7 linked regions of the Homo sapiens genome follow. The protein of the gene in region 3 interacts with the protein of the main gene of each other region in a pairwise test. Each region holds a gene or a part of one and is shown on either strand. Other genes may lie near its edges.

Evidence for each region.
Region 1: the proteins of WWOX (region 3) and CEACAM6 interact in binary tests that used the Homo sapiens proteins (3 or more experiments, as listed by UniProt).
Region 2: the proteins of WWOX (region 3) and FAM222B interact in binary tests that used the Homo sapiens proteins (3 or more experiments, as listed by UniProt).
Region 4: the proteins of WWOX (region 3) and LMO3 interact in binary tests that used the Homo sapiens proteins (3 or more experiments, as listed by UniProt).
Region 5: the proteins of WWOX (region 3) and JPH3 interact in binary tests that used the Homo sapiens proteins (3 or more experiments, as listed by UniProt).
Region 6: the proteins of WWOX (region 3) and DMRT3 interact in binary tests that used the Homo sapiens proteins (3 or more experiments, as listed by UniProt).
Region 7: the proteins of WWOX (region 3) and KLK6 interact in binary tests that used the Homo sapiens proteins (3 or more experiments, as listed by UniProt).

What each region holds. Positions count from the first base shown.
Region 1 is NC_000019.10:41,762,030-41,765,529, reverse strand, and holds part of CEACAM6 (cell adhesion molecule CEACAM6 preproprotein), read right to left. Parts: coding exon 3,307-3,500; intron 1-3,306. UniProt on the Homo sapiens protein: Cell surface glycoprotein that plays a role in cell adhesion and tumor progression. Intercellular adhesion occurs in a calcium- and fibronectin-independent manner.
Region 2 is NC_000017.11:28,766,291-28,769,790, forward strand, and holds part of FAM222B (protein FAM222B), read right to left. Parts: intron 418-3,500; 5' UTR 378-417; coding exon 296-377; intron 1-295.
Region 3 is NC_000016.10:78,435,154-78,438,653, forward strand, and holds part of WWOX (WW domain-containing oxidoreductase), read left to right. Parts: intron 1-3,500. UniProt on the Homo sapiens protein: Putative oxidoreductase. Acts as a tumor suppressor and plays a role in apoptosis. Required for normal bone development. May function synergistically with p53/TP53 to control genotoxic stress-induced cell death.
Region 4 is NC_000012.12:16,554,163-16,557,662, forward strand, and holds part of LMO3 (LIM domain only protein 3), read right to left. Parts: intron 1-3,500.
Region 5 is NC_000016.10:87,693,008-87,696,507, reverse strand, and holds part of JPH3 (junctophilin-3), read right to left. Parts: intron 1,872-3,500; exon of another isoform or gene 367-1,871; intron 1-366. UniProt on the Homo sapiens protein: Junctophilins contribute to the formation of junctional membrane complexes (JMCs) which link the plasma membrane with the endoplasmic or sarcoplasmic reticulum in excitable cells.
Region 6 is NC_000009.12:989,444-992,232, reverse strand, and holds the end of DMRT3 (doublesex- and mab-3-related transcription factor 3), read right to left. Parts: intron 2,193-2,789; coding exon 1,228-2,192; 3' UTR 501-1,227; downstream 1-500. UniProt on the Homo sapiens protein: Probable transcription factor that plays a role in configuring the spinal circuits controlling stride in vertebrates.
Region 7 is NC_000019.10:50,966,792-50,970,865, reverse strand, and holds the start of KLK6 (kallikrein-6 isoform A preproprotein), read left to right. Parts: upstream 1-1,274; 5' UTR 1,275-1,376; intron 1,377-2,098; exon of another isoform or gene 2,099-2,274; 5' UTR 2,275-2,325; exon of another isoform or gene 2,326-2,349; intron 2,350-2,512; exon of another isoform or gene 2,513-2,593; intron 2,594-2,753; 5' UTR 2,754-2,761; coding exon 2,762-2,801; intron 2,802-3,369; exon of another isoform or gene 3,370-3,540; coding exon 3,541-3,697; intron 3,698-4,074. UniProt on the Homo sapiens protein: Serine protease which exhibits a preference for Arg over Lys in the substrate P1 position and for Ser or Pro in the P2 position.

The sequences.
Region 1 (3,500 bases), on a different chromosome or scaffold from region 3:
CTCATGGCTGTTTTACCCAGTGAATTATCTTGTACCTCTAATCCCATCTTGGCTGCATCTCAGTGGATGAAAGCTAACATACCAGGCTTGATTCTTTGCACTGTTTTTCCTCTCTCCCATGTTTAGCCAGTAACCATGTCCTAGTGAGTTTCCATTTGGTGCTTAGCCCTCACCAGTCATCTCAGTGCGATGGTTAATGCTAGGTTAGCTACTGTTGAGGGGCATGTCCTAGATACCAGGCCCTGTGCTAAATACTTTACCTGTATCTCATTTGATTTATACAGTAACTCTCTTGGGTAGACATTATTTCCATTTTACAGATGAAAAGACAGAGGCTTAGGGTGATGAGAAAACTTATCCAAAGTCACATGGTTAGTGACAAGTGGATTTAGAATTTGACTCTAGGACTACCTGACTTTAAGGTTAATGGTAACAGTAGTAATAATAATAGCTAATATTTGTGAAGCTTTTCTTTGTGTGTGGCATTTTGCTGAAGGCTTAATCAAATGTTACATTAAATCTTCAAAACGATACTATGAAACAGGCATTGTTATTTCAATTTTCATTTTTTCCACCCATTTCTTAGTGATGAGAATTATTGCAATTTTCAGTTGAAGAATTGAAGGCTCAGAGAAGTTAAGAATCTTGTGCAAGAAATTGATAGTGGTAAATACTTACATTAAAGAGAGACCTCAAATCAACAACCTAACTTTACAAATTCAGGATATAGAAAAAGAACAAAATCAACCCAAAGATAGTGAATGAAGGAAACAATAAGAATTATAACTGAAATAAATAAAATGGAGGCTATAAAAACAATAAAGGGAGTCAATGAAACCAAAAGTTGGTTCTTCAAAACAGATCAACAAAATTGACAATCATTTACTAGGTTGACTGAGAAAAAAAGAGAAGATTCAGATTACTAAAATCAGAAATGAAAATGGGGGCATGGTGGCTCACACCTTTAATTCCAGCACCCTGGTAGGTCAGAGGATGAGGGTTGCTTGAGGCCAGAAAGTCATGACCAGCCTATGCAACATAGGGCGACACAGTCTCCACATTTTTTTTTTTTTAAACTAGCCAGGCATGATGGCATATGCCTGTAGTCCCAGCTACTCAGGAGGCTGAGGTAGGAGGATCACTTGAGCCCAGGGGGTTCAGCCTGCAAGTAAGCTATGATCAAGCCACTGCACTCCAGCTTGGGTTGGGTTACAGAGTGAGACCTACTCTCAAAAAAATTGATGACATTGCTACCAATTCTACAGAAATAATAAAGATTAAAAGAGTGCGGTAAATAATTGTATGCCAACAAATTGGATAACCTAGATGAAACGGACAAATTCCTGGAACACACAAAAAAATCTGAATAGACCTATAATTAGTAATAAGATTTAGCCAATAAAAGCATTTGACAAAATTCAACATTCTTTTATAAATAAAAACACTCTGTGAATGGAAGGAAACCACCTCAACATAATAGAGGGATACTCAATGGAGAAAGACTGAAAGCTTTCCCTGTAAGACCAGGAGCAAGACAAGGATGCCTGCTTGCCCCACTTCTCTTCAACATAGTGTTTTAAGTCCTAGCTGGAGAAATTAGGCAGCAAACAAACAAATAAACAGACATCCAAATCGGAAAGAAGTAAAATTATCTCTGTTCACAGATAACTTAAACTTATATGTAGAAAACTCTACAGGGTTGGAGTTGTTGCTGGTGACCGAGGGCTTGGGCAGCTCCGCTGTGCAGAAAACAGAGAGAAGATTGCCGTGTGTGGCACCTTTGATTCCTCTGCAGGCATCGTTCAGTCAGAGTTGGCATCTCCCACCCCTCAGTCCACCCAAGTCCTTAAGAGCCCAGGGCAGGTGTGTGTGTCAGAAGACGGATGCACAACGATCTGAGGGCTCGGAGATCGAGGCCACCTGCTTTGTGTGGGAGAAGTACAGACTTTCTCAAATGTGAATAGGGCAGAAGCATTGAGTCTTGGGCAGATACAGGACTGACAGCCACAGCCTCTGGCACCTCTCCTGTTTCTTCCCTGACTGGCTGACTGCCTGGTCTTTTGGGGTACTCACCTGGAACATGCAGGTGCTGTTTCTTTCAGCTGCACAGTCCCACACCACCCAGCCAAGGTGTGTTTTTTCTGAGGCTTTGCTATTTAAGGACATCCTGGAGATGGGTGATGATGGGGATGGGGGTTTGAGCGGGAGACCAGAAGCAAGTCTAGAGGTGAGTTCAGGGGTCAGGCTGTGGGTCACAGGTGGGCAGCTCTGCCCAGGAGTTTGATGGGAACAGAGTTTCATTTTGGGAGGAAGAAGAGAGTTCTGTGGGTGGGTGGTGGTGATGGTAGCAGAACAACGGGAATGTGTTTAATACTACGGACCTGCACACGTGGAAGGGTTGAAAAGGTAAGTCCTATATTAGATACATAGTGGCTGGTAGTCTTATCCTCTCTATAAATACACACTTTTTGTCACTGCCCCTTCCCTGCCATGCAGAGTCCCCATGGCTGAATCTCCCTATGTCTCCAAGTGTGCGTCACTTGCTGTCCTCTGTGCTGTGTCCCATGTGCTGTGCCCACAGTCTTATACAGCCAGTGACTTCAGAGCCAGGACACAGCTCAGCAGTCTGTCATGAGGCTCCATGTCTTCCCATTTTCCTGCGGCCTGATCCAGGGGAGGCTTTGGTGTTGATTAGCATCTTGATTTAGCCTGATTCAGGACAGACACCTGGGCACCTTCTCCATATGCCCTGGTTCCACCTTAGGTGGCTTCAGGGTGGGGTCAGTCAGTCACTGGGGGTGCTGGGAGCAGAGATGGGGGCAGAGTCTGAGCTGCTCCTCCATCACCCAAGGGGCTTCCTCTTCTCATTTAAGGAAAAAGTGTGAGCTCATTTCAAAACCTCCTTGTCCCTTGTAGCTTATGGAGTAGGTAAAAGAACACAAAGAAGTGACAGAAAGGGAATTGTTGGTGACAGAGAGCAGGAACTTGACCCTGAGGACCCTTCCTCCTTTTTTCTCTGTGAAGCCCCTTTCACTACACAGGGCTCAGTGCTGAGGGAGCCCCCTCCTCTCATTCCAGGATGGACCCAAAGTCAGACATGAGAAATCAAAAAACAAAAAACAACAAAAAACAAAAAAACAAGGGGAAAAGAGTCTGCAGAGGTGAATTGGGAGGGTTCAGGGGAGAATTTGGGATTTGCGTGTGCCCCTTGGACACAGGTTGGGAAAGAAAATTTCTTCCTGGCTCTTCTCTGAGAGCCAGACTCCACCTGAAAATGTGATGCTAGTGCTTCATGGATCCACTTACCAGAGACTGTGATCATCGTGACTGTGGTCCTATTGAGGCCAGTGGCTGAGTTATGGGCTTGGCACATATAGGATCCGCTATTATTCACAGTGATGTTGGGGATAAAGAGCTCTTGTGTGGATTGCTGGAACGTCCCATTGATAAACCAAGAGTACTGTGCAGGTGGGTTAGAGGCTGCGTGGCAGGAGAGGTTC
Region 2 (3,500 bases), on a different chromosome or scaffold from region 3:
CTAAAAATAGAAAATTAGCCAGGCATGGTGGTGGGCACCTGTAATCCCAGCTACTCGGGAGGCTGAAGCAAGAGAATTGCTTAACCCGGGAGGGAGAGGTTGCAGTGAGCCAATCAAGATCGCGTCATTGCACTCCAGCCTGGGTGACAAGAGCAAGACTTCGTCTTAAAAAAAAAAAAAAAAGAAAGGTGTCAAAATTCAAGGTCAGTGTACCCCAGATGTGCTTCAAGGACGGCCCAAATGTAGAGACAAAAACAAAGAATCACACATGCTCCATAGGATCCAGATTACTTACATTTCTGAAGTCCAGTGTTCATCTGCGTGTGAGAAAGAAGCTGAAAGGACAGGTCACCTGGCCCTGGTAGACAGGCTAGCATGGCAGATTGGCATCAACACAACATGGGGCAGTGGCTCACACTGTAATGAACAAAAACAAGGTCATGAAACACAAGGCAACTCATTCGAAGAAGAGAGTAGGAACACTGGATATGACTGGCGTGAGGCCCAAGTTTAGACACATAAAGCAATTTAATTAGCAGTGTGTTGGTTGAAAGTATACTTACATCTTTATCTGTGACGACAATTTGCTGTCAAATATCACTATGGTTAAAATGATTTTTCAGTTACCACAGATGTATGGATGGGAGAAATAAAACTGGAAAGCACCTATTCATACAACTGGAAAGTACAGGTGCATTTATAATGTCTCAGTATTCCTGAGGAGAGTGGGCCCTCATAGGGCCTGGCTCAGCCAGCCCATTTATAGGCCTGGTTGGAGACCAGCCAGACATTTTCAGAAGCAGCACATTATATGATTGCAAAGGTACCCAATGTCTGACTTGTGAGCCAGTAATATGAACCCACTTTTATTTTATTTTTTTTGAGACGGAGTTTCACTCTTGTTGCCCAGGCTGGAGTGCCATGGTGCGATCTTGGCTCACTGCAACCTCTGCCTCCCAGGTTCAAGCGATTCTCCTGCTTCAGCCTCCCGAGTAGCTGGGATTAAAGGCACCCGCCACCACGCCTGGCTAATTTCTTTGTATTTTTAGTAGAGACGGGGTTTCACCATGTTGGCCAGGCTGGTCTCGAACTCCTGACCTCAGTTGATCCGCCCACCTCGGCCTCCCAAAGTGCCGGGATTACAGGTGTGAGCCACTGCACCCGGCCATGAACTTACATTTATTTACTTATTTATTTATTTATTTAAGACAGAGTTCTGCTGTCACCTAGGCTGGAGTGCAGTGGTACAATTTTGGCTCACTGCAACCCTTGACTCCTGAGTTCAAGCGATTCTCGTCCCTCAGCCTCTCTAGCAGCTGGGATTACAGGCGCATGCCGCCATGCCCAGCCAATTTTTGTACTTTTAGTAGAGATGGGGTTTCACCATGTTGGTCAGGCTGGTCTCAAACTCCTGACCTCAGGTGGTCCGCCCGCCTCAGCTTCCCAAAGTGCTGTGATTACAGTCATGAGCCACCGCACCCGGCCGAACTCACTTTTAAATGGAAGGAGGAAAGCATCCTAGGAGGCACAATTAACCACTGTTAAAGCAAATTCTGTTTGCAAATTTCTGGGGCTTCACCCTTCCTGACATGCAATTAGACCTCCTGAACTACCTCTCCCACCCCCTCAAAAGAAATGCATTGCTCCCAGACTAAAGCAAGGAGAAAGGCTGCCAGCAGCTCTCTTCGTGCAGGCAATCCTGACATGTCAAGACCGCACGAGTTTCATTAGTGATGTTTACCAACCAGACATACACAGCCCAAGCAAGCAGACATTGATGGGGCCTTCTGTAGCGAAAGAAGCCCTGTCAACAATGCAAGCTCCTTAGGTAACAGAAATACGATTTTCCTAAATAAGTACACGAACTTCTTTTCCCATATTTCAGAAACCAAGGTGGCAAATTATGGCTTTAGATCACAGCAAAAAAGGAGTGGGGGAAAAGCTCAAAAGTTAAAGACGACAAAAATCTCCTTATTTTCTTGAGAGGGCTCTCTCAGGTATATTAAACTACCTTGTCATGATGAGTATCAGAGGGCTCCTGCTTCCAAGACCAGGTAGCTGAAAAGACACTTTGTAAAAGAGGCTGCTCAAACTGTGTCTAAGATAGCAACTGCAGAAAGAACTGAAGATTGAATGCCTTAATGAGAACAGAGCTGTCCAAGAGTTCTGGCACAGCGTCAGTCTTTTTAAGATCTCTGGTGGGTGGGAAAACAGAATGAACACAGTGAGCCAACTTCAGTGCCTCAAGAAAAAAAAAAAGTCTTGGCCGGGCACGGTGGCTCACACCTGTAATCCCAGCACTTTGGGAGGCCGAGGCGGGCAGATTACCTGAGGTCAGGAGTTCGAGAACAGCGTGGCCAACGTGGTGAAACCCTGTCTCTACTAAAAATACAAAATTAGCTGGGCATGGTGGCGCATGCCTGTAGTCCCAGCTACTCAGGAGGCTGAGGCAGGAGAACTGCTTGAACCCAGAAGGCAGAGGTTGCAGTGAGCAGAGGCTGCGCCACTGCACTCCAGCCCGGGCCACAAGAGTAAAACTCTGTCTCAAAAAAAAAAAAAAAAAAAAAAAAGAGAGACTTCTGTTGGGGTCTGGATGCTGATCTTTACATAATAACTTCTCCCTTAAGACCCTAACACAGCTGAAGGCAAACTCCAAGGAAAGGAAGAGAATTAACAAGTACTGGGAGCTAAAACTGTGAAATGGGCTGTATGAGGGGCTTTAGTGATGTTTTCTTAATTGAGTCTCTCAAGCCTTGGAAACAGGTAACAAACTTCACCTGTCATCTCATCATCTCTAGATGGGATTACTATTAGCCTTCTAAATGGTCTGTTCCACGCTTACCCTTTATCACCCAATCTATTCTCTATTCAGCAATGTTAGTTCTTTTTTTTTTTTTTTTTTTTTTTGAGATGGAGTCTTGCTCTGTTCCCCAGCCTGGAGTGCAGTGGTGCGATCTCGGTTCACTGCAACCTCCGCTCCCGGGTTCACGCCATTCTCCTGCCTCAGCCTCCCGAGTAGCTGGGACTACAGGCGCCTGCCACCATGCCCGGATAATTTTTTTTTGTATTTTTAGTAGAGATGGGGTTTCACAGTGTTAGCCAGGATGGTCTCAATCTCCTGACCTCATGATCCGCCCGCCTCGGCCTCCCAAAGTGCTGGGATTACAGGCGTAAGCCACCGTGCCTGGCCCAAACGGGGTTTCACCCCATGTTGGCCAGGATGGTCTCGATCTCTTGACCTCGTGTTCCGCCCGCCTTGGCCTCCCAAAGTGCTGGGATTACAGACGTGAGCCACCGCGCCCGGCCAATTCTGTTAACTGAAAGTCAGAGCAGCTTAAATATCTCTAATGACTTTCCATCTAAGAATAAAATACAAAATCCTAACATGGACCCCAAGGCCCTCCATGATCTATTACTACTGGTTCTCTGACCTCACCTTCTGACCTACCCTGCCCTCTCTTGCTGACTTACTTCCAGCCACCATGGTCTCACCATGGTTT
Region 3 (3,500 bases):
AACCAGAGTATGGGGTTAGAAATGGAGGCAGAGGGACTACCATGTCGGGGAGGATGCACAATGAATTGGACGAAGGTTGCAACTCAGTGAGCACCGTACCTGTAGTGTGTCTTAGTAATAGCAGATGCCCAACCTCCATGCCTAACTCCTTTGCCTACCCCACCAGTGTGCAGCAGCCTCTGCCGCACCCTACTGCAGTCTCTCCTATTTCCCTGGCAGGAGAGCTCAGAGACTACTTGTGAACAGGCCTCAATGCCTATAGCAAGGCAAGGCTTGGGAGAAACAAATGTCCTCTGGGAGCAGCCTTGGGTAAAAGATTAACTGCGCACTGAGCTTTAGATCCCTGAGTGAGAAAGCTGTGGGAAAATGAGTGTGTAGCTCATGAGAGGGTTTGGAGAAAAGTGGTGACATCGCAAAAATCCCAGGTTTTGTTGAAGTTGTCTGTGGAGGGGCACTCATAGAAAGGGCACTGGACGTGAGCATTTCCCTTGTAGTTGAGATGGGATTTGACATGACTTCCTGGTGGTGGCAAGACAAGAAAGTGGCAACCTGGGACAGTGGACCTCACAGCTCTCCTGCTAATGGTGCTGATGGCTAAGCTCAGCTCTTACCCTTGACCACTGGAACAACTTAGACATGTCACCAGCTTTCTGAGCCTGTCTCATTACGATGAAAATTGTGATACAGGTTAGTGTAAGGACCGACAATAATGCATATAACATCAATAATGATGGATATAGAATTTCTGCAGTTATTATAATCTGGCTCTCCAGTATGGTAGTCGTGGGCCACATGTGGCTATTGAGTTCTAAAAATGTGGCTAATAGAACTGAGGAAGTGAATTTTCAATTTGATTCCATGTTTGTTAATTCGAACTGAAAAACACCACGTGTGCCAAGTGGCTGCCATACTGGAGAGCGTGGTCAAATGACATGCCTAGCTCAGTGCCTTTCGCATGGGAGGTATGCAGTACTTCCTGCCACGATGGCTGTTACTCTTGTCGTTGTGAGCAGTGCCTTGGTCCCGATGATGATTCTCCAAAATGTAATCTCTGCTGACAGAACAAGAGTCTGCAAATTGGGAGTCTGGAAAGGGAAGAGAAGGGCTTTGTCCCTGGCCCCAAAGACTCAGGGAGAGGTTTACTGGCCAGGTAGAAAGGGCGTCCAGGTGAAGGGACCCTGGTTCAGTGATCTCCAACCTGCACGTCTCATTTGTGAGGAAGCCGTAGGGTGTGGACTTTTCTTGTTTCTGACCTTGAGTGATTAGAAAATAGCAGCTTTTATATGTCACAAATGGACTTTAGATAAGCATGAAGATGACGAAGACTGTGGAATATGTAGCTAAGAGTCTTACTAAAATCCTCTCTAGTGTATTTATATATTTAAGCGTTTGGTAGTACTTTTTTAGCCATCAGCGTTCTCTATATTAGGTTGATACAGAAGTTATTGAGGTTTTTGCCATTGAAAGTAATACGTCACTTCATGCAGAGGTGGAATTGGCGCTCTGAGCTTGCTTGTCAAATTCACAGGCATTCACTTTTCTTTCATAAACATTTAGGACTCTGTATTTAGGAGAGGAATCACTGTGAATGTAGACCTCGGGTTGGTCATTTTCCTAGTAAGATAGACCAGACTGACTGGAAAAGTCACCCTCTTGGGCTATCCTGCGTATGTGGCTCGGCATTGCTTCCGTCAGGATAATGCATCAGTTTCTTGGACAAAGGGTGCATTTCTGCTATTTGAATGCAGACATATTTTTGGATATAAGCCACGCAGTTGCATCCCATTTCTTCCGTAGGTAAAGGCTGGGTTTCTAATTGTGATTGAGAAGCTTAGCATAGATGCAATGTCCCTATCACCAGATGGCTAGTGTGCTCTGCCTTGTCTGCCTTTTACCTTAGAGAGGGTGCTTCCTTCTGACACGGGTATTGCTGGAGTACACATTCTGTTGCATGAGGTCAGGGGAGCAAGAAATACAACCCAGACTTGCGCTCGGAAGCCCTGCCTTCATTTCTTCTCTGTAGCTGGCTCCCTTAAGTATTAAACAGCAGTATTCTAATATCAACGTCCCTTTTTTATTTGCTGTGACTTGCTGTGACTACGGTGATTTTAGTTACAGTAATTAGGTCACTCTTCATGGAGTCGGGCTATTTTAAGTGCCTCTTTAAGGAATATTGTTGCAGATCAGTAATTTTACAATTGGATGTTCTTGTGCAACTTTATTAAATGTGATCTGTCTTTTAAATGTTGCCCTTTTACAGTTACACATTTCTAATTGTTGCTGTAAATGCATTATCACTTTGAAATTAATTAATTTTTCCATTTTGGCTGCCTGCAATATAATAATCACTAATGAGAAACTCACAGGAATCAATTCTCAGCACAGCGGCCCCTACTGGTAAAGCCATGTCTCTGCCTCCCTCTTCTTCTTCAGATCCAGAGAACTGGACAAGTGTATTGGGGCGTCCTGGGAGGGAAGTGTTTGTTTCTTCCTCCCTTCAATTTATGGTGAAATAAAAATCACAGATAAACTTGGAAAGTGAGTTATTTTTAAGTGTCGTTCTAAAAAAGATGCAATATACTTCAAATAGCTGCTTCTAAAATATGTTAAAGGAAACTAACATTTGCTGAGTACTTTCTAATAATGAAGTCACATCATACGTGCATTACATGTTTATTTTCTTGACTCTAGAGCATTCTTTTATGCAGTTAAATTACTCTAAAATGTTTTGCACCTGCACGCATTAATGTGTATTGTTTGGTAAGAACTTTCGAGTTGGTGAAAAAATGTATTGTATTTTAGTATCTATATTTATATATACATATTAGTCTATGGGTTTTAATTCACAAAACCAGGTGTTGTATCTGGTGCACATAAGGGATTTTCAAGGCTAATCTTGGGTTTTTGCAGTTGTAACCATGTGTGATGACTTTAGAATCCTACCACACTTCCAAATAGAGATGCAGATTGACCATTTTCCCAGATACCACGATGCTTTATGTATCAGCATATATTTTCATTAATTTCTCATAATTTCTGTTAGAATTAATAATTCCAAGTTCTACAATCTTAGAATTATTATCTTTATTTTGTAATTGAAAAGCACAGAAACCTCATGCAGCGTGTTCAAGAAAATGATATACCAGCCTTGTAAACTTTCACTTGCTAATTGCAGCTGCATTTGCTTTGTCCAATGCACGGTAATGCCCCTGGCATCCATATCTAGTTATGCAGTTATGCTTCCTTTTTAAAATGTTTGACAGCACCTTCACTGAAATGAATGCTGCCACCACCGCCAACCCCACCTTTTTTTTTTCCACATAAGCTTTCATTTCTGGTAAATACATCCTTGCCAGAGTTCCCAGGTCCAAGCCGGTCCTTTGTGGACCAGTATGCAGATTTGAAGTTGAGCACTGTCACTTGCCTCTTAGGAGTGTTTTGTGCAACCACATATTTGTGTTGGCAGATAACAGTAGAAAGAATATCATGTGTTAGGGTAG
Region 4 (3,500 bases), on a different chromosome or scaffold from region 3:
AGAAGTATATGAAACAAGTGTAAATAGTAAATCATCCTTATAAAATATAGTGCTTAGTTTTAAGCAGGTTATCAAAAGCCTATGCTAAGAAGCCTCCACTGGTAACATCCCTTTTAAGAAATAAAAATGTTAGCCTAGCCATCTTCTTTCCCTAATGTTAGTGACTGACAATTATGATTAATTTCTATCTTACAACACTTAGCTAGGGAGCTCCAATCCATATTTCTAGTGTCTATACTTTCCTATTCCACATCTTCAGTTAACTGTAAGTTAGAGATTTCTATACTATACTGTTTTCAATAAGAAGTCCGGGTTGTGTACTCATTCCTCCACTATACACCTGTGAACAAATTTACTGTCTTTCCCACTGACAGTCCGGTTGTCATTATACATCTCACTGCTAACAACCCTTAGTGTATCAAATGACACTACCCACACCCCAAATCTTGCTATACATTATTCAAAGTTTACCTTACTTTAAGTCCACTATATCTATTCACATTTATATGCTCTTAGTCAGAAAATAAAATACCTCTCTTGAAATGGGCCTGACTCCGGAGAGGGAGACCAGATTCGCTCCGCCTCCCGGGTTCCCGCCATTCTCCTGCCTCAGCCTCCCCAGTAGCTCTGACTACAGGCGCCCGCCACCTCGACCGGCTCATTTTTTTGTATTTTTTAGTAGAGACGGGGTTTCACCGTGTTAGCCAGGATGGTCTCGATCTCCCAACCTCGTGATCCGCCCGCCCGCCTCGGCCTCCCAAAGTGCTGGGATTACCGGCATTAGCCACCGCGCCCGGCCAGGTTTAAATCTTGAGTCTACCACTTTCTTCTAACTGTAATCTTGGGCAAGTTACTTACATTTCCTATACTTTACTTTCCTCATCTGTCAAATGAAGCTAATAACTACCTATTTATGGGATATTTTGAGTATTAAACGAATGAGTACATGTAAAACACTCAGAACGGTGTTTGGTGTTTGACTAATACTTTATCAGAATTTGCTATCATTATTATTTGGTAATGATAATCTTTTCACCTTTACTTAAGTTGTTCCCTAGCAAGAAATATTTCTCCCCTTTTTCTGTCTACTTAAATTGTAACAATCCTTGAGTTCCCATTGCCTCCATCAACATCTTCTGACCATGTAAATTTGCTTATTCTGATGTTTCCCAAAGCACTTATTTATTGGTGTATTGTTTATTTTGGTGTTTCAAAATTTCTCATGAATGTGTAACTGGTTTGCCATTATAGTCAGCAGTTCTGCGGTAAATGACCACGAGTTATATTTCTTTTGAACCCTTTGCAGAACCATCATAAACTGTACTACCACTTAAGGTGTGTGGTCAATAAAAATTGGTTAAGGTAGATTTATTCCAGAAACCAACAGCTTTAAATAACAAATGTATTTTAGATGACTAATTTAAATTTGTATTCATTTTGACTTTTATTTAATGGCTTTTCAAAGACTAAGTTTACAATTTCATTTCCTCTAGGTGCTTGCTCTCTTTCTACTCCTCCATGTGCCTACCAAACCGCTTCTCTAATCTCTGAACATACTGAGCCGCTTTTCATTTCCTAAACACGTCAAATGCTTTCACATCTGCATGCCTTTGCACGTTGCTCAATTTGCCTGAAAATTCCTTTCCTCACTGCTCCCTGGCTCCCTCATCTTCCCCAACCCCGAGCAGACACACTTCCTGTAAGTCAACCAGTTCTAGGGAGTTCTTTTTTCAAGACCCAGCATATCAGGCCTTTGATGCTTCCCTAACACTTCAAGAAGGATGGCTCTCTCTTCCCTCAGTATAGCTCTATTTAGCATCGATTACACTCTTCTGTGAGTCTTTGATGTCCTGTCTCTCCCGTAGCTCCGGACACCTCTAAGAAATAAACCAGATTTTATCCACCTCAGCTTCCACAGAGCCTAGCACAGTGCTTTATTCTTAAAAAAAAGAAAATTAATTAATTGTTACATAATTTTACATATTTGGGAAAATTTCATCACAAGCTTTTTATTTTTCCTTTTCTTACAAAACTATCATTTAGTTTTATTGTGTTTTCTAAGGAGAAGGGGCTTATTCACCTTTAAGAAATTAACCTGTTATATAGAATCTTCCAATTCTGAATGAGATTCAAGATATCATAAAATAAGCTTAAATAACCCTCCTGCGGTACCTTTTAAAATAGAGAAACTAGCCGAATTTTAATGCAGGATTCACGTTTTAGCTATACGCCTCTAAAAGGGGCAGAGGAGATCTATATATAAGGGACAATCAATCCTGAAAGGTTATTATTACTGCTACTTTTTAAAACATTCAGAAATGCTTTGGATCTTAATGATACTTTGATTTAAAGGTAAAGATGAAATGACTGCTGAATACAATTCACAAACGCGTAATTCCACAACTTTAGACGTCAATAAAGTTTGCTTAAGAGAAAATGCCTATGAATTACCTATTTGCCTTGTGTTTCACTTGAAAAGTGCAATATTGCGACAATGATTTGGCTACTGGAAGTGGGATATGGGTTTCCTGGAGGAGACTGAAGCAAACTTCAGAGTAAAAGGAGAATCTCCTATATGAAAACCTTCTGTATCCTGGGTAACAAAATTTGTCTGCTTTGCTTGACTGATGAAGATTAGCTGACTTCCCGCATTAGTTTGTCTTGTAGGGGCTGAAGTGACAAGACAATAACTAAGTGCTAATTGTGCATAACCGGCACTAAAGATATGCAGTCCCATTATGGCATGTAATAAATGAAGCGAACACAGAAATATATTAGGTACTTTAATAATGATACTAGAATAGTATTTCGCAGCAATAAGAATGTGAACAGTTTTAGAGTCAAAATTTAGGAGTGTTTGTCTTACTTGACTGAGTTCTCCTGAGGAGACAGACTTAATTGTGAATGCAACTTTTTATTTCAATGGTGAAATAAAATAGATATATGATTTGTAAATAGCATTAACAACCTACAATTACTTTGCATCATAATAGAATTTAGGCTGGGTTTAGCACTTGAATGTTTTTATTTTCTATGTAGAACATGGATAAAATAGGTAACCCTACTTAATAGAAGAAAATGGACAAAGGACATAAACTGCCTACTTCTCTAAAAGAAGGAATACCAAAGGACCACCAGGGATCAAATAAATGCCAGTTAGAAATTATAATGAAATACTATCTTTCATCCCTTAAGGTGGCAAGGATTTTTTTTTTTTTTTTTTAAACGTAATTCCTAGTGTTTTAGAATGAATGTGAGGGAATGCGTAGTTTTGTAGATTTCTGCTAGGAGAATAATTGGTATAACTTTCCTGGAGATCATTAAGCAATGTACAGCATATGCCTTCAAACTGTTATATACCTTGTTTAAGTAATCATGCTCTGTGAATTTAACCAGATAGAGATATGAGCATTTGTTTTTATACAATCTGAATATCTACATTTAGCAAGAAACTCTATTGTGATATATGTCTTGTGGGAAAGTCAAGTTAGTGGACTATT
Region 5 (3,500 bases), 9.3 Mb from region 3:
CACGTCTTTTCACCAAGCTAGCAGACCCTCGGGGGTGGAAGCGTACGGGAGGATGTTAGAAACGCTTGGACACCAAAGGCCCACCAGAACCTGAGCTCCGTGAAGTCCAGACGCGGGAGAGAAGCCCCAGCTGCCTGTACGTCTGAGGTTGCTGGTCCTGGAATTCCCTTGGAATTCCCTTGTGGCCCCGACACCCTGAGTACCAGCTCTCCCAGGGTCCCCTTGGAGAGAACCACCCAGGCCTCCCTGCAAGCAAACGTCTCGGTGCGTGTGGCCTTTGTGCCAGTCAGCAGGCTTCTCCTGCCCTGTGGAACTGGGACCTCAGAATCTCAGAAGGGCCCGCATGGCTGCCATGGCCAGTGTCAGATGCAGCCCAGCAGAGAGGCCCTGGAACTCAGAGGACTCCCAAAGTCCGTGAGCACAGTGTCCTCAACAAAACCCCCCCTCACCACACCTTCCTCAACAAACCCCTCACGCCAACTGGCTCTGGAGGACTGTGTCCAATTGCGAGCTGCCTTGGATTTAGGTTATGGTCCTGAATGCTGCTGCCACCACCTCCCTGAAGTGGCTCACAAGTCCTCAGCCTCCGCCGGAGCCCCAAGTGCCAGACTCCCCCTTCAGCCGCACAGCCTGGGCACTCGGACCAAGCTGCCACCTTCCCTGTGCTTGCCGGGGCCAGGTAGGACACGTCTCACAACAGAGCCTTTTCCGGGGGCGCCCTTCTGCAGTGATTCTTGCAGTCCTGCACTCTGCTGTGTTCTGCTCACACCAGGCAGGGGGAGAGGGAGCGTGGCCCCTCTGGGAAGCTCCCAGGACGGCAGGGGTGGGTGCTGCCCTACAGATACAGTACCTGCTGCACAGGGAATGGACGCCTCCTGGACGGTGGCCCCAGCCCAGGAATGGCTGGGACACCCACTCCAGTCTTGCCCACAGTCTGCTTCCAGAGGACACTTGCCCCTGCCTCTCCCCACCCCCACCACGCCCTGCATCTCGCAGCCACCTGGAAGGAGATGTAGACCCCACTGTGGTAAGGAGCTGTTCAGAGCCCCCGGAGCCCTCCACTTCCTACCACGCAGACATCCTGCTGCTGTGCGACACAGATGGACCAGGGCTTGTCCTGAAGGTCCCAGGATGCACATTCCTCAGGGATGGCTACTCTCCTCCCCCTCCCTGTTAACAGACTGGTTTTCCATGGACTCCTTTAAGCCCCCAAGTCTGGCCTCTGGTCAAATTTCAAAGACATGATGGGGTGGTCTGTTAAGACTGAGTAGCTCATGTGGCACCAGGTGAGGGCTGCTCAGGCCTGCATTAAGGAGGGGAGCCCGAACAACGGGCCTCCCCCTTCCCCCCACCCACAACGAAGCAGCTGCTGCTGGCTCCTCTCCCAGAGACTGGAAGAGAATTGATGAGAACACCGGGGACCCAGCAGTTCCACTCCCAGGCCTAAATCTAAGAGGGCAAAGTCAAGCCTCCACTCAAAACCTTGTGTGTGCACACACTCCCGGCAGCAGGATTCACAACAGCCACGGAGTGGAAGCAGAGCCAGCTGTCCAGTGGAGGATGAACACACAGCGGGGAAGACATGGGCCGTGCAACCGCGGCTGCCACAGAGAAAGCGCAGGAGCAGTGCATGCTGCGTGAGAAGCTGGGCACCAGGCAGAAAGCAGAGTCCGGGAGCTGGGGGAGGAGGGGACAGCAAGTGCCTGCTCAATGGCCCTGAGGTTTAAGGTGATGGAGCTGATCTAGATAGAATTGGGGGTGATGGCTGTATAACTGGGAATACACTAAAATCCCTGACTTGTACACTGTGGCCACCTGAAGTGAACAGTACACGCTTTCTGTCTCAGTAAAGCTACGCAAAGAACAGCAGACATCCCGCATGAAGTCAGCTCTCCAGGGCCGCACCATGGGAGCTATGGGCTGGCAGTGGCCGGCTCTGCTCTTGACACACAGGAAGGATGCAAACTCAGAGCCCCAGTGGGGTCACGGCCTTGCCCGGAGAACTCCCTCTGGGGATGGCAGCCTGCCGTCCCCTTGCCTAGCCTGGATGCCACATCCCGCGGCAGCGAAGCAGCCTCCTGCTTGACCGTCTGGCCCGGGGACCCTTTTGTCTCCTGGGTCAGTTTCATTCTTTCCCCAGGCTGTGCTCCTGATGAAGCAGCATCGTAGCTGATGTTGAAGGGCCTCACGCCAGCACCTAGGCTGGTCTTCCCTGGGTGCCTGCTTGAGCACGTGGCCCAAAACAGCCGTTGCATGGGGCACTCAGAACCCACCACACCCTCGCCCCTTCCCAGCCCGCCACCCTGTGGCTGAGGCCCTGTGCCTTGAGCAAGCTGCTGCCCCTCCTCCTCCTGGTCCAGTTCTGCCCACACCTGGGTGCCCACCTCCCCTCCCTGTGGTCTCCAGGAGCTGCCCCCAACATGCCCTGGGCAGCAGTGCTCATCGTAGCCCCGTCTGTGGCCTGGACAGGCTCTGACCACTCCTGCGTTGGCACAGCTTCCTCGGGAGGCTCCTGCCAACACCACTCGGCACGGTGGGCTCAACACGGCAGCGGCAACGGGTGGGAGTACTTGCCTCTGCCTGGCCCGAATGGCGGTTTTCCATTTGGATTTGGGGATGAGCAGCCAATGAGCCTATCTCATTCCCGTTAACGTGAGAGAAACATCCAGACGCTATCCTCAGGTCTCACACACCCCCGCCGTGCTCTGCACCACACCTGGCAGGGGCACCCCCGACTGTATGCTGGGCATCAGCTCCCAGGCCCGAGCGCCTCACCTCACACTGGGGATTGGAGCCCTCAGGCCCTAGAGACACTGGCTTGAGAAACTTTTGAGATGGAGTCTCGCTCTGTTGCCCAGGCTGGAGTGCAGTGGCATGATCTCAGTTCACAGCAGCCTCTGCCTCCTGCGGGTTCTGGAAATTCTTGTGCCTCAGCCTCCTGAGTAGCTGGAATTACAGGCGTGTGCCACCATGCCCGGCTAATTTTTGTATTTTTAAGTGGAGACAGGATTTCACCCTGGTGGCCAGGCTGGTCTCGAACTGATAACCTCAGGTGATCCACCTGCCTCGGCCTCTCAAAGTGCTGGGATTATAGGTGTGAGCCACCGTGCCTGGCCAAGAAACTTTTTAAAGAAAAAGTTTGCTCAACAGATAAGCTGAACCCCAGTCAGCAAAGGGCTTTGTAAACTGTCCTTGGGATGCAGCTCAGAGAGGAGGGTCCTCAGAGGGTGAGGTGCTGCCTAGGGGGCACCTGCAGCCACAGCAGCACCAGGCCCACACCCTCCGCAACCTCCCAGCCTATCAGGGACCTGAGGCGCAGATGGAAGTGGAGTTGTGGACACAGCAAGGGCCTCCACTCAGCCAGAGAGAAAGCAAGCTGCCCTGAGCCCAGCTTTCCGTGGCATCGTGGCCTCAGGCAGGTGTATTGTGAGTCTTGGGCCCCATGACAACTTGGTTGGGCCGGGCCAGCCTGCAGGGGGCAGAGAACAGCCAAGGGCCCA
Region 6 (2,789 bases), on a different chromosome or scaffold from region 3:
AGAATGAAGGAATGCACGTCTATATTCTGAATGCAAGGCTACTGAATTTCATTAATAGAAGCAGTAGTTTTCATGGACTGCATACTTCCTATGTCAGGTACTGGGCTAAGCACTTTCCTTGCTTCCCACACTCAACTATACATTGTTGGGAGTTTTCCATTTTTACTTTGTTTTCAATGGGATTCTCCACTAAAATATCTGCTTATCTAGGACTCACGGGTAGGTAACTTGGACAATACATGGAAAGCACATTCTCTTACACATAGTAGGCACTCAGTAAGTATCTGTTGAATAAGTGAATGGATGGAGAGAATTAACTCCATTTTGAACAAATTATCTTTCTGAATGCAACCCTAAAACTTTGCCATTCATATTTCTCAGGAATGTCTCATTTAACTGATAATTTGATTCCTGGCCCATGCGTTAGTAAAAGTCATTTTTACATCAAGTTTCTATTTTTAGAGATCCTCTTTCCACAAGTAGAAATGACATAAACCACGCTCGTCTCCTTAGTTTATTTTTTTCTAGAGTCCTTAACATGCTACATTAACCTGACAAAGCTTAATCTTGTGTTCGTTTCACAATACATTTCATGCAGTTCACAGCTGTGATTGGTTTTACATTGACATTACACATGTTTCGATTCAGCCATGTGAAAAGAGTAATTCTTAATGGGGTTTGTCTCTGAAAACTGTCCAAGCTTAAATAAGCATATGAGCAGTTCACTCTATTCTTAAGTGCATCTCTCTTTAAAATGCAAGGATTTTTAGTGTAAGAATATAATGTCCCTGTTTATAGTCCATTTGCAACAGAACCACTTCCTTTAGGTTTCACATATCCTGAGGAATCCACTTTTACAAAATTGCATTCAAGTATATTATTTCATTTAACATTCCAGGTTGGGTTTAGGTGCAAGGCTGACCTTCAGCTTTACATCCCCAAATAAATCTTCCACGGACCCAGCCTTCCCAAGACTATTCTTAACATTAGACTCTCTTTTACAATAAACATTCAGCACTAAAGCCACAGAACAGAGCTATTTGGCATTTTCCAGTGAAGTGCAAGAAGTTAAATAAGTTATGTTTTTATTGCTAATGTATAGAATCAAGCACAGTCACTTTGTCAAACAGAAGGAAAGGGCATACACAAGATGTGGCCTCTCCTCAGATGCCTCAGGGTCAAAACGCACAGAAAATGTCACCTGGCCACCACCCATCCAGCACCACTTTAAGATGATGTGTTGAGTGTTCTAGAGTCTGAGGAGTCAGACCTCTCGTCATAGTCGTCCTCGGTGTAAATGGACTGCTTTGACACAAATGGACACCCATCATCAGGGATGGAAATCCGAGGGTCTTCCGTGGCGCGGGCAGGAAGGACGGGCGAGCTTCTGAAGACGCTGGTAGAGTTACTGGGGAAAGGACTGACATACTGGGACCTCAGCTGATACTGCTGCTGCAGCGTCATGGTGTTCCACAGGGTGACATCATTGGGCAAAAAGGGGCTCGACTGGCTTCTCGCCAAAGTATTCCTCAGCATCAGCGGGTACCGGGGTGGCTGGGGGAAAGGGGGCTGCAGAGGCCCAGCCAAGGGACTGGGGACAACGTTGCTAGAGTCGGCAGAAAACCTCAACGTGTCTGGGACTCGAAAGGCTGATCCCACAGACCATTTGGAAGACGAGATGGGGTAGGAGCTCAAGGTGTGTTCAAAGATGTGCCCATTGGAGGGCAACGCTAGACTCTCAGGTTCTGCGGAAGTTCGCTCTGCTCCCGTGACTGAGGATCGGCTGGACAGAAGGACTTCCACGGCGCTCACCAGGTCCCCGCCACAGCCCTTGAGGATGAGCTCAAGCACCGTTGGCTTCTGGTTGGGGAATATCTTTTTTAACACTTCAAGCGGCGGTCTGTTGGCTTTCAAGCTGAAGGGCAGAGAAACAGTCCCCGAGGGGCCCTCAATCAGGAGGTGATTCTGCTCCGCGTGACACTTGGGGCTGTCAGGGCGGCTCTCGGGGTTGCCTCCGTTTTTCTGGACAGCGTATCCCCCTTCCTCCACGGACACTATCTCAGGGCTCTCAGGGGTGAAGCAGCCCTTACTCTTTGCCACATCTGGGGAACTCCTCTGGTCAGTGTCTTTGTCACTGAAGACCTCTGTATTGTCTGCCGACTTGCCGTCTCCAAGTCGTTCTTCAGTCAAATCTGGAAAACAGAACAGCTGAGTTAATCTTTTCCTGGTGTGCATAAAGAGGAGCAGATGTGCTCAGAAGAGACCTGTACACGTGCTTTTTGGAAGAGCAAATGCATCTCAATGGGTCATAATATACTACAAGCCTTTTTAAAAAAATTCGAACTATATCACTGGCAAATGAAACAAAAACCCTGTAAATAAAGATCTAGAAATCAGAGTGGCTTCCTGGAATGCTTTGTGCAAGGAAGCTTGCCTTCAACATAGAATGGCTACATGAACCTGTAACATATGGCTTTCATAGCAGTAACAATCTCAATAGAGAGCCTCTTTGGGAGGAGGGGTGGGGGACTCCTGGAAGAGCAAAGCTCAGGGAGAAACAGGAAAATCAGCTCAGCTTGTCTTCCGGCTCCTCTTCTGCAAATAAGGTCCCCAGCTGTTATCTAGGGATAGTACCATCCAGATACCCACAGGGAATTTTAATATCTGAAATCTATTTTCCCATAGGCTGATTTTGTGTTAAATATGTCTTATGAACCAATCAGTAAGTTGCATCAGGTTACCATATACAATAGCTAGCTAATTCAATTGCTGAAGTGAAAGATACCTCT
Region 7 (4,074 bases), on a different chromosome or scaffold from region 3:
GACTTCCCCCTCCTCATTTCTCTCCACTCTGCCACGCACACACCCTCACCCTCCAGCCCATACCAACCACCCCAACCACTGCCTGTGGTTTCCCATGTGCACCCAGGCCAGGCATTTTCACGGCCTTTCCTCCTGACCTACGCCTGGCTCAGCTTTCTAGGCCCAAGTTCAAAGACACCTCCCTAAATCTTCCCAGATCCCTCTGCTACTGCCCAGCACCACCATCTTATCACAGCCCCACGTCGTTCCCAAGTGCTCTCCGATTTCTGCTTAACTCCATGCCTCTCGCTGTGTGTCCGCATCTCATCAATAAGTCCTCAAGTCCTCTTCCATCCTGCTAGCTTCCTCATCGCTCGGGAATCATCCCCGCTACTTCCTGGGGAAACTGACTCCCTTCTGGGCACACACAGTGCTACCCCCGGGGAAATCTAAGAAGAGACCCAGGAGAAGATAAGCACGGAGAGTCAGAGAATCAAGGGGAAAGAAAGGGAGAGAGGCCGGGCACAGTGGCTCACACCTGTAATCCAGCACTTTGGGAGGCCAAGGTGGGTGGATCACCTGAGGTCAGGAGTTTGAGACCAGCCTGGCCAACATGGTGAAACCTCTTCCCTACTAAAAATACAAAAAACATTTAGCCGGGCGTGGTGGTGGGTGCCTGTAATCCCAGCTACTTGGGAAGCTGAGGCAGGAGAACTGCTTGAACTCAGGAGGCGGAGGTTGCAGTGAACTGAGATCACACCACTGCACTCCAGCCTGAGTGACAGAGCAAGACTCCGTCAAAAAAAAAGAAAGAAAGAAAGAAAAGAAGGAAGGAAAGAAAGAAGGAAGGAAGGAAGGGAGGAAGGGAGAGAGGAAGGGAGAGAGGAAGGGAGAGAGAGAAAAAAAGAGGGAGAGAGACACAAATACAGAGACTGAGATGGGAGAGAGAGAGAGATGGAAGCTCCCTCCCCTCCATGGCCAGGGAGACAGATGGAGCAAGAGACCTCAGGGGTGGGCAGACTTGGAGGAGAAGGACCAGGAGGATGTGGAGTGCCGAAATCTCCAGTCAGGGCCAGGTGGGCAGTCAGAGACTGCAAAGGAGGACTGTCAGACAGGGACAAAAGGAAGCCATTGATGTAACCGCCCTCCCGCCTGCCCGCCGGAAGAGAGGTTGAGGCCGGAGCTGCTGGGAGCATGGCACTGGGGTGCTGGGGGCGGACAAAGCCCGATTGTTCCTGGGCCCTTTCCCCATCGCGCCTGGGCCTGCTCCCCAGCCCGGGGCAGGGGCGGGGGCCAGTGTGGTGACACACGCTGTAGCTGTCTCCCCGGCTGGCTGGCTCGCTCTCTCCTGGGGACACAGAGGTCGGCAGGCAGCACACAGAGGGACCTACGGGCAGGTGTGTGAGTCACCCCAACCGCACTGAACCTGGGCAGGCTGCTTCCCAGTGCCGGAGGGCTCTAGAGCCCGGAGTGAGGGCCTGCAGGTCCCTGGGTGGCACAGAGAGTGCTGGGGGTGCAGGGAGGCCTGGGGCACCATCTGCTTGCCCCAGAGGCCGGAATTTGTCTTCAGACACTTTCTTTCTCCAAAACCCGGAGGTCTAAGGACTGAGCCGACTAGAACTTCCTCTGCCTCAGATTCAGGCCCCAGCCCCTCCTCCCTCAGACCCAGGAGTTTAGGTCCTAGCCCCTCCTCCCTCAGACCCAGGAGTCCAAGTTCCCACCTCCTCCCTCAGACTCAGGAGTCCAGGCCCCCAGCCCCTCCTCCCTCAGACCCAGGAGTCCAAGTTCTCACCTCCTCCCTCAGACCCAGGAGTCCAGGCCCCAAGCCCCTCCTCCCTCAGACGCAAGGGTCCAGGCCCCCAGCCCCTCCTCCCTCAGACTCAGGAGTCCAGGCCCCCAAGCCCCTCCTCCCTCAGACCCAGGAGTCCAGGCCCTCACTGCACTCAGGGACCAGTGCTCCCTTCCCTGGAGGCCTGGTCAGGGGTCACCAAGAGCAGAGCGTGGGGGCGGGAGGAATGTGTGTGGGAGGCCTGGGTAAGGAGGAAAAGGGTGTAGCCAGTCTCCTGGCTCAGGGACCTGAGAGACAGGGGTTAAAAGGACGTTCCAGAAGCATCTGGGGACAGAACCAGCCTCTTCCAGGGAGGCCTGGGAGCTGGGGGTGTGTGTCTGGCAGTCCCTGCAGCCCTGGGCTCTGCGGCCCCTGCGTCCTCCGCTTGGCTCTGCCACTGCATCTGAGTGTCTTCTCTCCTCACGGCTCCCCGCATTTCTAACTCTTTCTGCCTCCTCGTCTCAAAGCTGTTCCTTCCCCCGACTCAAGAATCCCCGGAGCCCGGAGGCCTGCAGCAGGTGAGATCACAGACATCACAGAACCTGCCGGGTGGGCGGGGTGGGTGGCCATTGCGCACAGAGCCAGGCTCCGAGGAAAACTCCCATACAGAGGAAGAACGCTAGGGCCCCCTAGGGTAACCCTCTCCTGTCGACAGGAAGGCAAATCAGTGCCCAAGAAAGTAGAAAGATCTAATCAGAATCTCACCATGGGTTACTGGACCAGTGGACGTAGTTCTGAATTCTCTTTGGCACTGTTTTCGTGGGATCCTCTGATGGAAGATGTGGGCTGAGGAAGAATAAATCAGGAGGCTAGATGGGAAGGACAGAGGTCAAGGCAGGAGACCATAGCAGGCCAGGAAGGAAGGAGAGGATGCAGAGGGAGCAGACAGAGGGATGGGGGGAGGGTCGAGGCAGTGACTAATGGACCATGTGGCTTCCCCTCTCAGGAGCGGCCATGAAGAAGCTGATGGTGGTGCTGAGTCTGATTGCTGCAGGTGGGGAAAGGGCATTTGGATGGGGGAGGCTTGCAGACAGGGTTGGGCTTGTTGATGGAGAAGAGGCTGGTATTGGGGATGGGGATATGCACAGGGTTGGGGTGGGGGAGCTTTGAAATGAGGAAGACGTTGGGGATTAGGCTAAGGGTGGGGAATACAGATAGGGAGGGTGGTGGGAGGTGGGTTTGAAGATATGAGGGTTTGGGGTGGGGTTGGCTTTAGGGATGGGGATCTAAACATAGAAGAGGTAGGAGGTAGGTTGGAAAGTTGGAGAGAGCCCGGGAATAGGGGATACAGTTGGGTTTGTAATGGGAATGGGGTAAGTTTGGGAGTGGAAATACAGAGAAGCTTTTTTTTTTTGAGACAGGGTCTCACTCTGTCACCCAGGCTGGAGTGTAGTGGCATGATCCATAGTTCACTGCAGACTTGAACTCTTGGGTCTCAAGTGACCCTCCCACCTCAGCCTCCCAAGTAGCTGGGACTACAGGCGTATGCCACCATACCCTGCTAATTTGTGTGTGTGTGTGTGTGTGTGTGTGTGTGTGTGTGTGTGGAGATGAGGTCTCACTGTGTTACCGAGGCTGGTCTCAAACTCCTGGGCTCAAGCGATCCTCCTGCCTCAGCTGGGATTACAGGCATAAGCCACTGCACCTGACCAATCTTGACTGGAGTTCATGTTGAGGGGGATGCGCTTGGTTTCTCCAGAACTCCTCTCTGACTCAGATCTTCTCTCCCTCAGCCTGGGCAGAGGAGCAGAATAAGTTGGTGCATGGCGGACCCTGCGACAAGACATCTCACCCCTACCAAGCTGCCCTCTACACCTCGGGCCACTTGCTCTGTGGTGGGGTCCTTATCCATCCACTGTGGGTCCTCACAGCTGCCCACTGCAAAAAACCGTGAGTCTACACTGTAAATGAACAGCAGATGCGACTGAACCCTGAGGGTGTCTTATAGATGTCAGGCAGGAGGTGACATAGGCATCCCCCCCATCCCAGCACGAGGCCATCTGATAGCCAGGTGCATTCGGCTGTTGCTTAATTGAGTACTTAATGTGTGCCAGGCCCTGCGGGCATAGCAGTGGAAAAGAAAATAAAAAAAAGAAAACAAAAAAAAACAAGCAAAATTGCTGTTTTCCTGAACTTACTTTCTAATGGGGGAATTGGATCATTTGGGGACCTGCAGGGCGTGATGGGCATTTGGATTTAATTCTGAGCACAGTAGGAAGCCACTGGGCAGTTTTGTTTTTGTTGTTTGTTTGTTTTTTGAGACACAG